Regions from separate parts of the Homo sapiens genome. Here region 2 is linked to region 1. The links come from fine-mapping of genetic effects on gene expression. A gene starts in region 1. The other region holds a variant in brackets. All regions are shown on one strand. Distances are from middle to middle. Region 1 holds the start of SMIM2-AS1 (SMIM2 antisense RNA 1). Region 2 has its middle 13 kb from the start of MIR8079.

Region 1 (5,387 bases):
GAGTGACATACTGCTTTCAGAATAGACTATCCCATTAATAAATGATACCAATATTACTATAATATTATTGCTGCTCCTAATCTTCCTTCTGCCAAGAAAGGAAGTACGGTTGTGGGCCTAAAATATCCAAACTGTAAATAACAGAGCACATATAAGTGACATCACTAGGCTCCAAGCTGCTCAGTGAGATAATAACAAGAGTGACTTGAAATAGCCAGTCAGCTGTGAGGACCCCAGTTCTTTAAAATACGTGCATGCCATCTCTCACGTCCCTGCCTCATCCAGCCTGGGTCTATGCCAGTAGAAACTTTTCCAGTTAAAGCCCAGTGCCTTTATTTCCAGTACTGATTGTCACCTGGGAGACAGCTGTCAACTTGTGCAACCCAAGTTACCTTTGCTCTGCAGTAAATAGATGAGTCACAGTTGGTCCTAGCAGGTCAAGGAACAAGCAGCCCTGGGCCATCCTGTCTGGTGGCTGAGGCTGCTGAGACAATGCCCTTGGTGCCTATGAAGGAGTCATAAAGTTGGGCTTGACACTCTTTAAAGTTATCTTAGTTTGCTGATTGTTTGGCTAGAGGGACTGGTGTTGAGCCCTTCCTGGCTGTATTAGGGCTTTGCATGATAAGTGTAATTAGGGTGAGAGGAGGCTGAGCAGGCTTCAGTGTCTGAGGTGGCAATGGGTCAGGCAGAGCAGTGCAGGTCATTGACCTCAGTAGAAAACCCCCAAGCTGCACTTTAGATACCAGGTCCCTTCTTTTTCCAAACTAAAAACGTCCTGGGTGTTGGTAGCAGAAGGGCCGACTATAGGTTAATGTTGCTACTTATCCTGATTTGTGGGGCAGGGAGGGCTAGCTTTAGTTTTAAGCCAAATGTTTAAATGTTTCTCAAATCTATCTACCTCTTTACCTCCAAACCACCCAAGTCTGGGCCAGAATCATTAAAAGATGGTGCACTTGTGCCGACTTGACAGCCACAGCCTCCCACCAGGATCCCCACATTCTCTCCTGCCTCACAGAGCAGCCAAGATGATCCAGCCTCACCTCAGGTCAGACCATTTCACTCCCAGTGTGAAACCCTTCCGTGATTCCTTGATACTTTTGGGATCAAGCCTGACCCTTTGATGTGGTCTCCAAGCCTAGGTCAGCCTGACCATCATCCTCTTACCGCCTGACATTGCTGCAGGTGGGTGGAAGGCCTCGGCTCCTCTCAACTCCAAGCTTCTTTTCCTTTTAGGTATTGGAACCACATTCTTCCACCCACCTGGGGCACTTTCTCAAGCAAAACTCTCAGCCGCCTTCAATTTTGAGCTTAAACTTTACTTCTTTTCTTCCTCCCCCTAGAGTTCCTCACACATGAGCCCCTTGAACTCTGAGTTTGGGATCCTAAAACTTCTTAAGCTTTATTGTTACCCCTTACCTAACCAGAATCTAAGTTCCATGAAGGAGGGACCTCATCCATACTCCCCATGCCAGTGAATACATTTCGAGTAAACCCCAAAAGTATTTGCCAATGATAAGGTAAAAGCAGTGGGTTTCACAAAGGACAATACCATTTGCAGAAGAAGCACCACATAGCAATAAAAACCCAAATGGTTATCCAGATTATGTAAGGGCCACAATCATGGGCAAGGTCCCTATCATGTGTAAGAGACAATGTGAGTTATTTTGTCTATATGAAATATGCCTTTTGTTTGGTAGTTGTCATTTTTTCAAAGAACTTTTTGCTAGGCTATCGAAAAGGTGAACGACTCAGGAGAATGGGCATTATAGTTGACGGTTATTTAGCAACTACAGTGTGCCAGGTCCAACAACCTTATGAAGTAGGTGCAATTATTACTGCCATTTGGTGAATAAGGAAACTGAGATGCCTAGGAAATTAAGTAATTTGCCCAGTGCTATACAGCTGATCGGTTGAAATCGTATCTGAAGCCAGGCACTGCCATTCCCAGGCAGGCACCCATTGTACTGTCTCCCTGTGGAACTGCAGATCACCTTCCAATATTGAGGGTCTTCCACATTTGCCGGAAAATACCATGGGCTGAAGATGTGCAACAGGCTTTACCTCCCTCTCTCAAGAGGTGGAGCTGGTTCATGCCTCAGAACATAAAAGGGTGGGGTTTGATTTCTCATCTTTGTGAATTATTTCTGAAGAGTTTATTGTATAATCAGTGACTAAGTAATTGTGGCCACGAGGAGATACAAAGATGTTTCATTATGGATGGTGTAATATTTAACTTCACGGAAAGGACCCGGGGCTCTGTGGCTTCCCATCCGTCTTGTGACCCGGAATCATGGTGATCTAAAAGAGCCCTGTGACTCTGGGAAATTTGTTATCAAAGGATGTTAGCCACAAGTCCTGTTGGCAAATGGACCCCAGGTGGCCTGCAGTGCCAAGCTGTTTCCCTGCCAGCCTCCCAGTCTGGCCCTGACTCTCCAATGTAAGTGAGGGGCACAATGGAAATGTTATTTTAGGCCTTTCCACTTTAATTGCATTTCCTACAAGAGCGTCTGCGGGTTTTTCTTCATTTTGCTGGTGCCTCCCATATGAGTGGAGATCCACTGAGCAAGGTCATTGACCTACTAATTGTTAAAGGCATGTAGAAGCTCGGAGGGCTCGGTTCTCAACAATATCCTAATTATTATGCATTGGTTAGATGTTCTCTTCCCCATACTGTGTTATTGGGTTCATACTGGCTTCTAGTAGTAAAATCACTTGCTCTCTCTCTTAGCATGGTGACAATTCTGTTGTGATTAACTCTTTCCCAACTTCTTGAACCTGAGAAATATATTATTCTATTACAAGGAGTTCAAAAATCGTATATATATTTTTCTCTTTTATAACACACTTCTATGAAGTATCAGACATTTCATTTGCACTTTCTCATCTAACCTTCGCAACATCCTTATGCATACTTATTATTATTGTGTCCACTTTATAGAGGGGAATATTGAACAGAGGATTTGTTTGTTTTGTTTTATTTTGTTTTTAAGTGACTGACCTATCAAATGTCACACAACTAGTAATTAGCAGACTGGGTTATAAACTCAGGCAACTGGCTTCAAGCTTAACTACTTCATGCTTAACTACTGTACTGTGCTATTCTACTTTACTTCCTTGTATTGTTTTTAACTTGAGAGATTTTTATCCATTATAGTTGAATCCATGACTCTTGTTTGCTTGTTTATAAAAAACATATGGTCCTGAGTAATTAGGATGTATTTCCCAGCATCGTTCAGTTTCCATGACACTTACTCTTCCAACCCCAACACACACACAACTGTGCACAACATACAGTTGAATGCAAACATATAAATGTTGGTGCATTTTCCTTTTTGTGATATAAAATTGTCCTCTTTCTTATACACAATCACCTGACCAATTTTTTCAAGATGATCTAGAACCTATTATTTGTAAGCCACTTTGGAAATTAGGGGGACTTTTCTGAGACAGAAATAGCATCACCAATAAATATGGAATTCCAGGGAAGGTACACATAGGGTCTTAACCCTGGATGGACAGCGCTGATCTCTTCAAACCTTTTTGGAACTGATTTCACTTCACCTTAGAAATCAACCACATAACACATTGGGTTAGATCAATGCATCCTCTGTATCTCTTGGAGCAGCACCAGTGCAGAATTTTCCTTCTAAGATCAATGGCAGGCTGGGAAAATACCCAGACATCGGTACACAATGTGACAAGCAATAAGGAGTGGAGGTAAGAGATCCAGGCCAAGCCTTGGCCTCACCCACGCTTACTGGTCTTATGATCCTAGGCACCTTACAGCTTCTTTGAGTCTTGCTTTTAATTTCTTCACAATGGGCCTGACAATACCTGCTCTCCTTCTAGACTTTTCAAAGGGTGAAACGAGATGACAGCAGAAGCTGCCAGGCATGGTGGTGAGCACACAGCAGGCCCTCACTAAAAGTGGAGTCCAAACCCCACACCTCAGCAAAGCTGGTTTAGGAACACTCCAGGGAATTTCTCAACATTTTTCCTGTAAGGTAATTTCTTAAAATGAGTACATTGCTAGATCTCAGATCCCCAAATTTCCAGAATATAATAGAAATGAAGTTTCAGTCACTTCACAGTGAAACTGCAAAGAAACTAAATGGAAAGTAAGTGATTTGAAGACTGTCAGAGACACAAGGAAGTAGTCTCTTAAGAATCATTTTCTTTCTTCTAGATTTGGATTTGGGAGTAGATTATTTAGATTCTTTTTTAAAGTAATTTAGATAAATTTTGAACAGTTGAACTATTTAAGGTTAAAAAGAGTAAAGATAGATAAAGGTTAACAATAATTTGATAACCGGACAAAAAAGTATAAATCATAGTAACTGTAACAGAACAAAATCCATTTTCCCCACTTAGAAACAGTAACTATTAGGTGGACAGAGCCCAGAGAAAACACTTTAACAGTATTGTTTGCTGAAGAGAATTCCTGTAACTAAATCAAAAATATTATTTTCGTGGGCCCTCTACCAAGGCATAGAAATAATTTTGTTATTACAGGCTCAACTTTCTAGAGATGATTTTGTGAGAGGATTTCACAAATGGTCGTGCTTGCCTTTTAAAGATAAATGGTGATGAATACACTGAGAAATCAACTACAATCTTCAGGGTATGTGTGAGTCTCAGACTCAACACCTTCATGACCTGTTTCCTTTTCCTGTGAGAGTTAGGAATCCCTCCTACGTGTCTGCTATTGCGTAGAGATGAAAATTTACTTTCTGTCATGCTGGGTCGTGGAAGTGGCAGAGGTAGATCTCATCCCTCTTGGTATTCCAGCCATTTGCCTTCTTCCTCTCTCTGCAGAAACGCATTAGTAGACGACTGCTTTCAATATTTGGGCTTCTCAAGAGGCTATTTTTGTTGTTTGTGACTTACAACTCATTAGAAGATGGTGAAAGATAATTCTGTACCTCTGTGGCTATTCAACTCCTTGAGAACTGTTTGCTTATGAAATCAAGCAAGACTGGAGAGGGTGCTCTGTGACAGTGAAAGAAGCCCAGGACAAATAATTTTAATTGGCAGAAGCAGTGCTGACTGGGACCCCAGACAGCCATCTGAGACCACTATAACTTTCCTCACTATTGCCTGTCTCTGTTCTGGTAGATGCTGGGTTGTGTGTTAGATGTTATTTTGCTTTTAGAAAAAAAGAAAAGAGAAAAGCACCTGAAATTATCTCTTCTTGCATTCATTCATTCATTCATGAAATACTGATTGAGTGCATATTGACAGGCAAAGATCTGTGCTAGTAGCCGTAGTGATCAGAGCCAGGCCCAGGGTAAGGCAAGTGGGGCACTCATCCCAGGGGCATCATTTAAGGGGACACACACAAAAAAACAGGAATCAAGGTAAATAATACCTTAATGCAATATTTCAAG
Region 2 (5,387 bases), 72 kb after region 1:
CTTTGGGGGTCAACTATTGAACTCACTATAAGAGGGGTAACTGAGCCCTAATTGGGGCTGAATAGAAAGCACCCATTAACCTTGTTTGGACCTACCTGTACTTCCTTTTCCTTTTTTCTTTTCCCTGAACACTTGTTCCAGTTTTGTCTATTTCCCGTAGATGGAATGGTCACAGCCAGAGGAACAAGCAAGAAATCACAACCAACAAATCTGCTTATTCCTGGGCTTCAACCTGGCCCACACCTGCAACTGCTTCTTGCTTCAGGGTTTGCTGTGGGCAGTACATAAGCTACTTGACCCAATACTCATGTGAAAGTTTATTCTGCTTGGCCCTCCCAGTTGCCTTGCAGACATCCAGGAGAGTTGGGTATCACTTGGGACCTGGCAGTGTGGGCTTGCCCTGCCAGGCTCTTCAACAGGGTTGCCTTGGTCACGTATTAGATTTCATGCATGGGGCCAAACCAGGAGACCTTGGTGAGCTGGAACAAGAAGGGGCAGTGGATCTGGGTCAGAGCAGGAATTATACTTGTAGTTGGACTGGGCAAATAGGCTCAGAGAAGGAATCTGTGTCAAAAGCTTGGCAGATTGGCAGGAAACCTGAGGCCTGATGCACAAATTAGAATGGATACTAGCTTTCCATCTACACAGGCCAGTTCTTAGTTCTCGTAAGTCTGACTGGGGAGTTCTGTGACATGTGGCATATCATGGATTGCAAGGGCCAACTAAATTCTTTTTTGCTTTCTCTCTGATACAGAGCCTCGCTCTGTCACCCAGGCTGGAATGCAGTGGCACAATCTTGGCTCACTGCAACCTCCGCCTCCGGGATTCAAGCAATTCTCCTACCTCAGCCTCCCGAGTAGCTGGGATTACAGGCACGTGCCACCACACCCGGCTAATGTTTTTGTATTTTTGATAGAGACGGGGTTTCACCATGTTGGCCAGGCTGGTCTTGAACTTCTGGCCTCAAGTGATCTGCCTGCCTTGGCCCCCCAAAGTGCTGGCATTAAAGGCGTGAGCCACCGTGCCTGGCAAGGCTCAACTAAATTTAGCATATATTTATTAAGGATTTGCCATATGCCAGGATCTATAATACAGAGGTCAGACAATCCTTGTCTTCAAGCAGATGAAAGTGTAGCAGCAGATACACACATATAAGAATTAATTGCCATAAAATGTGATAACTATATGTGCACAGTGTTATGAGAGGCCAAAAGTAAGAAATCATTCTGCCTTGGGCTAGGGAATGGGTCATGATGGGAGCACAGAAGAGGCAATATTTGATCTAGATCTTAAAGAATTCAGTAAGGAATGGCTGAGAAGAGCAGCCCAGGAAGCTTGTCCAGCTGACCAAGTGGGTGCCTCTTCTTTTTTGTGTTTATCTCATCCATAACCTAGACCTTCAGTGGAAAGAACAACCTTCATACAATAACTTTTTAAAAAAATAAACATTACAGAGACAGGTATTAAACATATCCGACAAATGAGTCATGCCCATGGAAACAACCAACCACAAAAGACTCCATTTGTAAGGAACTGGCTTAGTGGTTACCAACTTAACATCAGGGGCCCACGGCCATTACTACTATTATTCCTACTGTTATGTACTAGTTTTAGACTTTAGGGTATGATGATGTTTCAATGACTCATTACTATTGAGCATTTCATGTGGCCTATTTGGATGTATTTCTTATTAAAAATGTTTTTCATTTATTTCACATATAATATTGGTGTAAGACACTTATAATTTCAATCTCTAGTAAAGGTAAGAAGGCTACTGCTCATTATTGCCTGCTCCATATATTTGTAATATTTAATGAATCTCTCTTTGAACTTTCTTGGGGGTGTCTTCTAACACAACACCTTTATTTATTTATTTATTTTTAATTATACTTTAAGTTTTAGGGTACAGGTGCACAACGTGCAGGTTTGTTACATATGTATACATGTGCCATGTTGGTGTGCTGCAACCATTAACTCGTCATTTACATTAGGTATATCTCCTAATGCTATCCCTCCCCGCCACCATCCCACAACAGGCCCCGGTGTGTGATGTTCCCTTTCCTGTGTCCATGTGTTCTCATTGTTCAATTCCCACCTATGAGTGAGAACATGTGGAACACAACACCTTTATAATTAGTAGAGATGTTGTTAAATTTGAAAATGATGCATCTTCACAGAGTATTAGTTTTGTTTAATTATTATTCAGTTGCATTTAAGTAATTTAATTGTTTAAGTTTCAAATATAAGGTTTAAATATATTCCAATACTAGAACAAACATAGATACATTACTCAACTTTTGATATACATAGCATATATGTCAGCATTGAATATAAAATTCAAATAGTTTCTAGAATCATACAACAGATCTCTTTTAGATAAGAGAAAAAAAAATAAAGAACATCCAAACTGGAAAGAAGTCAGATTATCCTTGTTTACAGGTAAAATGATCTTAGATTTAGAAAAGAACTAAAGACTCCACCAAAAAACTGTTAGAACTGATAAACAAATTAAGTAAATTTGCGGGATAAAAAACCAAATACAAAAATCAGCAGCAATTCCCATAAGCCAACAGCGAACAATCTGAAAAAAAAAAGAAATCAAGAAAGCAATCCCATTTATAGTAACTACCAGGAAATAAAATACTTAGGAATAAAATGAAGCAAAGGAGAGAAAGAATTTTTTTTTTTTTTTTGAGACAAGAGTTTCACTCTGTCATCCACCTCCTGGTTTCAAGCTATTCTCCTGCTTCAGCCTCCCAAGTAGCCAGGATTACAGGTGCCGGCCACCACACCCAGCTATATTTTGTATTTCTAGTAGAGACAGGGTTTCACCATGTGGCCAGGCTGGTCTTGGACTCTTGACCTCAAGTGATCCACCTGCCTCAGCCTCCCAAAATGCTTG[G/A]GATTACAGGTGTGGGCCACCATGCCTGTCCCAAAGAAGAGAAAGATTTCTACAAGGAAAAAGATAAAGCACTGGTGAAAAAAATTGAAGATGACACACCCCCAAAAATGGAAAGACAGCCCATGTTCATAGATTGGAAGAATTAATACTGTTAAAATGTCCAGACTACCCAAAGTAATCTACAGATGCAATGAAAACCCTATCCAAATACCAATTACATTGTTCATAGAAATAGAAAAAACCATCTTAAAATTCGTATCAATTCTGAATAGCTAAAGCAATCCTAAGCAAAAAGAACAAAGCTGGAGGCATCATACCATCTGATTTCAAAATATACTATAAAGTTACAGTAACCAAAGCAGCATGGTACTGGCATAAAAACAGACACATAAACCAATGGAACAGAATAGAAAGTCCAGAAATAAACTCATGCATTTACAGCCAACAAATTTTCAACAAAGGTGCCAAGAACATACATTGGGGAAATTATTGTCTTATTGATAAATGGTGCTAGGAAAACAGGATATCCATATAGAGAAGAATAAAACTAGACTCCTATCTCTAATCATATACAAAAATCAAAATTAATTAAAAATCTTAAATGTAAGGCCTGAAACTATAAAACTCCTAGCAGGAAACTTTGGGAAAATGTTTCAGAACATTTGTCTGGACAAAGTTTTTTTTTTAGTAAGATCCCAAAAGCATAGGCAGCAAAAGCAAAAATTGATAAATGGGATTACATCAAGCTAAAAGGCTTCTGCATACCAAAAGAAACAATTAACAAAGTGAAAAGACAACCTACAGAATGGTAGAAAACAAATTATCCATCTGACAAGAAATTAATAACCATAATACATAAGGAACACAAACAACTCAATAGCAATAAAACAAATAATCTGATTTTATAATGAGCAAAAGATGTGAATAGACATATCTGACAAGAAGACAACCAAGTGGTCCACAGGTATATGAAAAAATATTCAAAATCACTAGTTGTCAGAGAAAAGCAAATCAAAACCATAATGAGATATCACCTTATCCCAATTGAAATGGTTATAATCAAAAGACAAAAAATAACAAGTGCTGGTGAGAATGCAGAGGAACAGGAACACTTTTACACTATTGGTGGGAATGTAAACTAGTACAACTACAAAAAACAGTAGGGAGATTCCTCAAAAAACTAAAAACAGAATTACCATATGATCCAGCAATCCCACTGCTGAGTATATACCCAAAAGAAAGACAGTCAGTATGTGAAGGAGATATCTGCATTCCCATGTTTATTGCAGCACTATTCACAATAGTCAAGACATGGAATCAGCCTAAGTGTCCATCAACAGATGAATGGATAAAGAAAATGTGCTATATATATGTAATGGAATATTATTTGGCCATGAAAAAGGATGAAATCCTGTCATTTGCAGCAACGTGGATGAAACTGGAAGTTATTAAGTGAAATAAGCCAGGCACATAAATACAAATACTGCATTTTTTCACTCATATATGGTGAAAAATATATGGAGGTAGTAAACAGAATGGTAGTGACCAGAGGCTGGAAAGGGGAGAGGAAAGGGGGATGAAGAGAGGTTGGTTAATAGGTACAATAACACAGTTAAATAAAAGGAGTAACTTCTAGTGTTTTATAGTACAGTAGGGCAACTACAGTTAACAATAACTTATCATAAATTTCAAAATACCTAGAAGATTGGGAATGTTCTGAATGCAAAGAAAAGATAAATATTCGAGGTGACGGATATCCCAATTACCCTGATTTGAGCATTACACATTGTATGATTGTATGAAAATATCCATGTACCCCACAAATATGTGCAACTATTATGTACCAATAAAAAGGGGGAAAACAGGTCTTAAACAATACAAAAGAAGCCAGATACAAAAGGCTTCATACTGTCTGAATCCATTTATATTTTGAAAAAGGCAAAATTACAGGGGTACAAATTAGCTCGGTGGTTGCCAGGGGCTGGGAGTAGAGGAAGGAAATTGACTGCAAAGGAGCATAAGGAAATTTGGGAATGATAAAAAATACCCTTTACCTTCATTGTGATGGTGGTTACATGATTGAATGTATTTGTAAAAATTCAACCAACTATACAATAAAAATTTTACTTATGTAAATTATATCTTAAACCTAACTTTAAGGAAAGTCAGGTTACTCCAGGCTCCCTTTCCAGGCAAATTCACTGCTGCATCCATTTTTTCTGATCTGCTTTTAAGAATACCTAGAAGGAAGAGTTTGAGAATTATTCATTTAATAGCTCTTTAAAAGAGGGGTCTTGGAGTATGATTCTGCATGAGTTAAACCCCAAGATCTTGAACAATTTAAACTTGAACAATAATTTTAGGTGTAGAAGGTATAGGGCACTTTCAAATTGTATAAAATACCAACATGCCTACCCACAATATTTTATAGATACATAATCATTTATTCTAGCACTGTGTAGCTTCTTTACTTGTGAAATATTCA

The links. PIP is the estimated chance that this variant, and not a neighbour inherited with it, causes the effect.
Region 2: its variant is the best candidate, but not a certain one, in a credible set for the expression of SMIM2-AS1 in left ventricle (GTEx, PIP 0.77).

The regions. Positions count from the first base shown.
Region 1 is chr13:44,108,176-44,113,562 of GRCh38, forward strand. SMIM2-AS1 (SMIM2 antisense RNA 1) reads left to right here and starts at 2,374. Exons shown (of 5, transcript NR_104065.1): 1 at 2,374-2,437. All of the region lies in intron 2 of LINC00390 (long intergenic non-protein coding RNA 390), which reads right to left.
Region 2 is chr13:44,180,630-44,186,016 of GRCh38, forward strand. No RefSeq gene overlaps it. Among named protein-coding and RNA genes, the nearest start is that of MIR8079, 13 kb to the right of the region's middle. The variant G/A (reference allele first, on the strand shown) is at 2,903.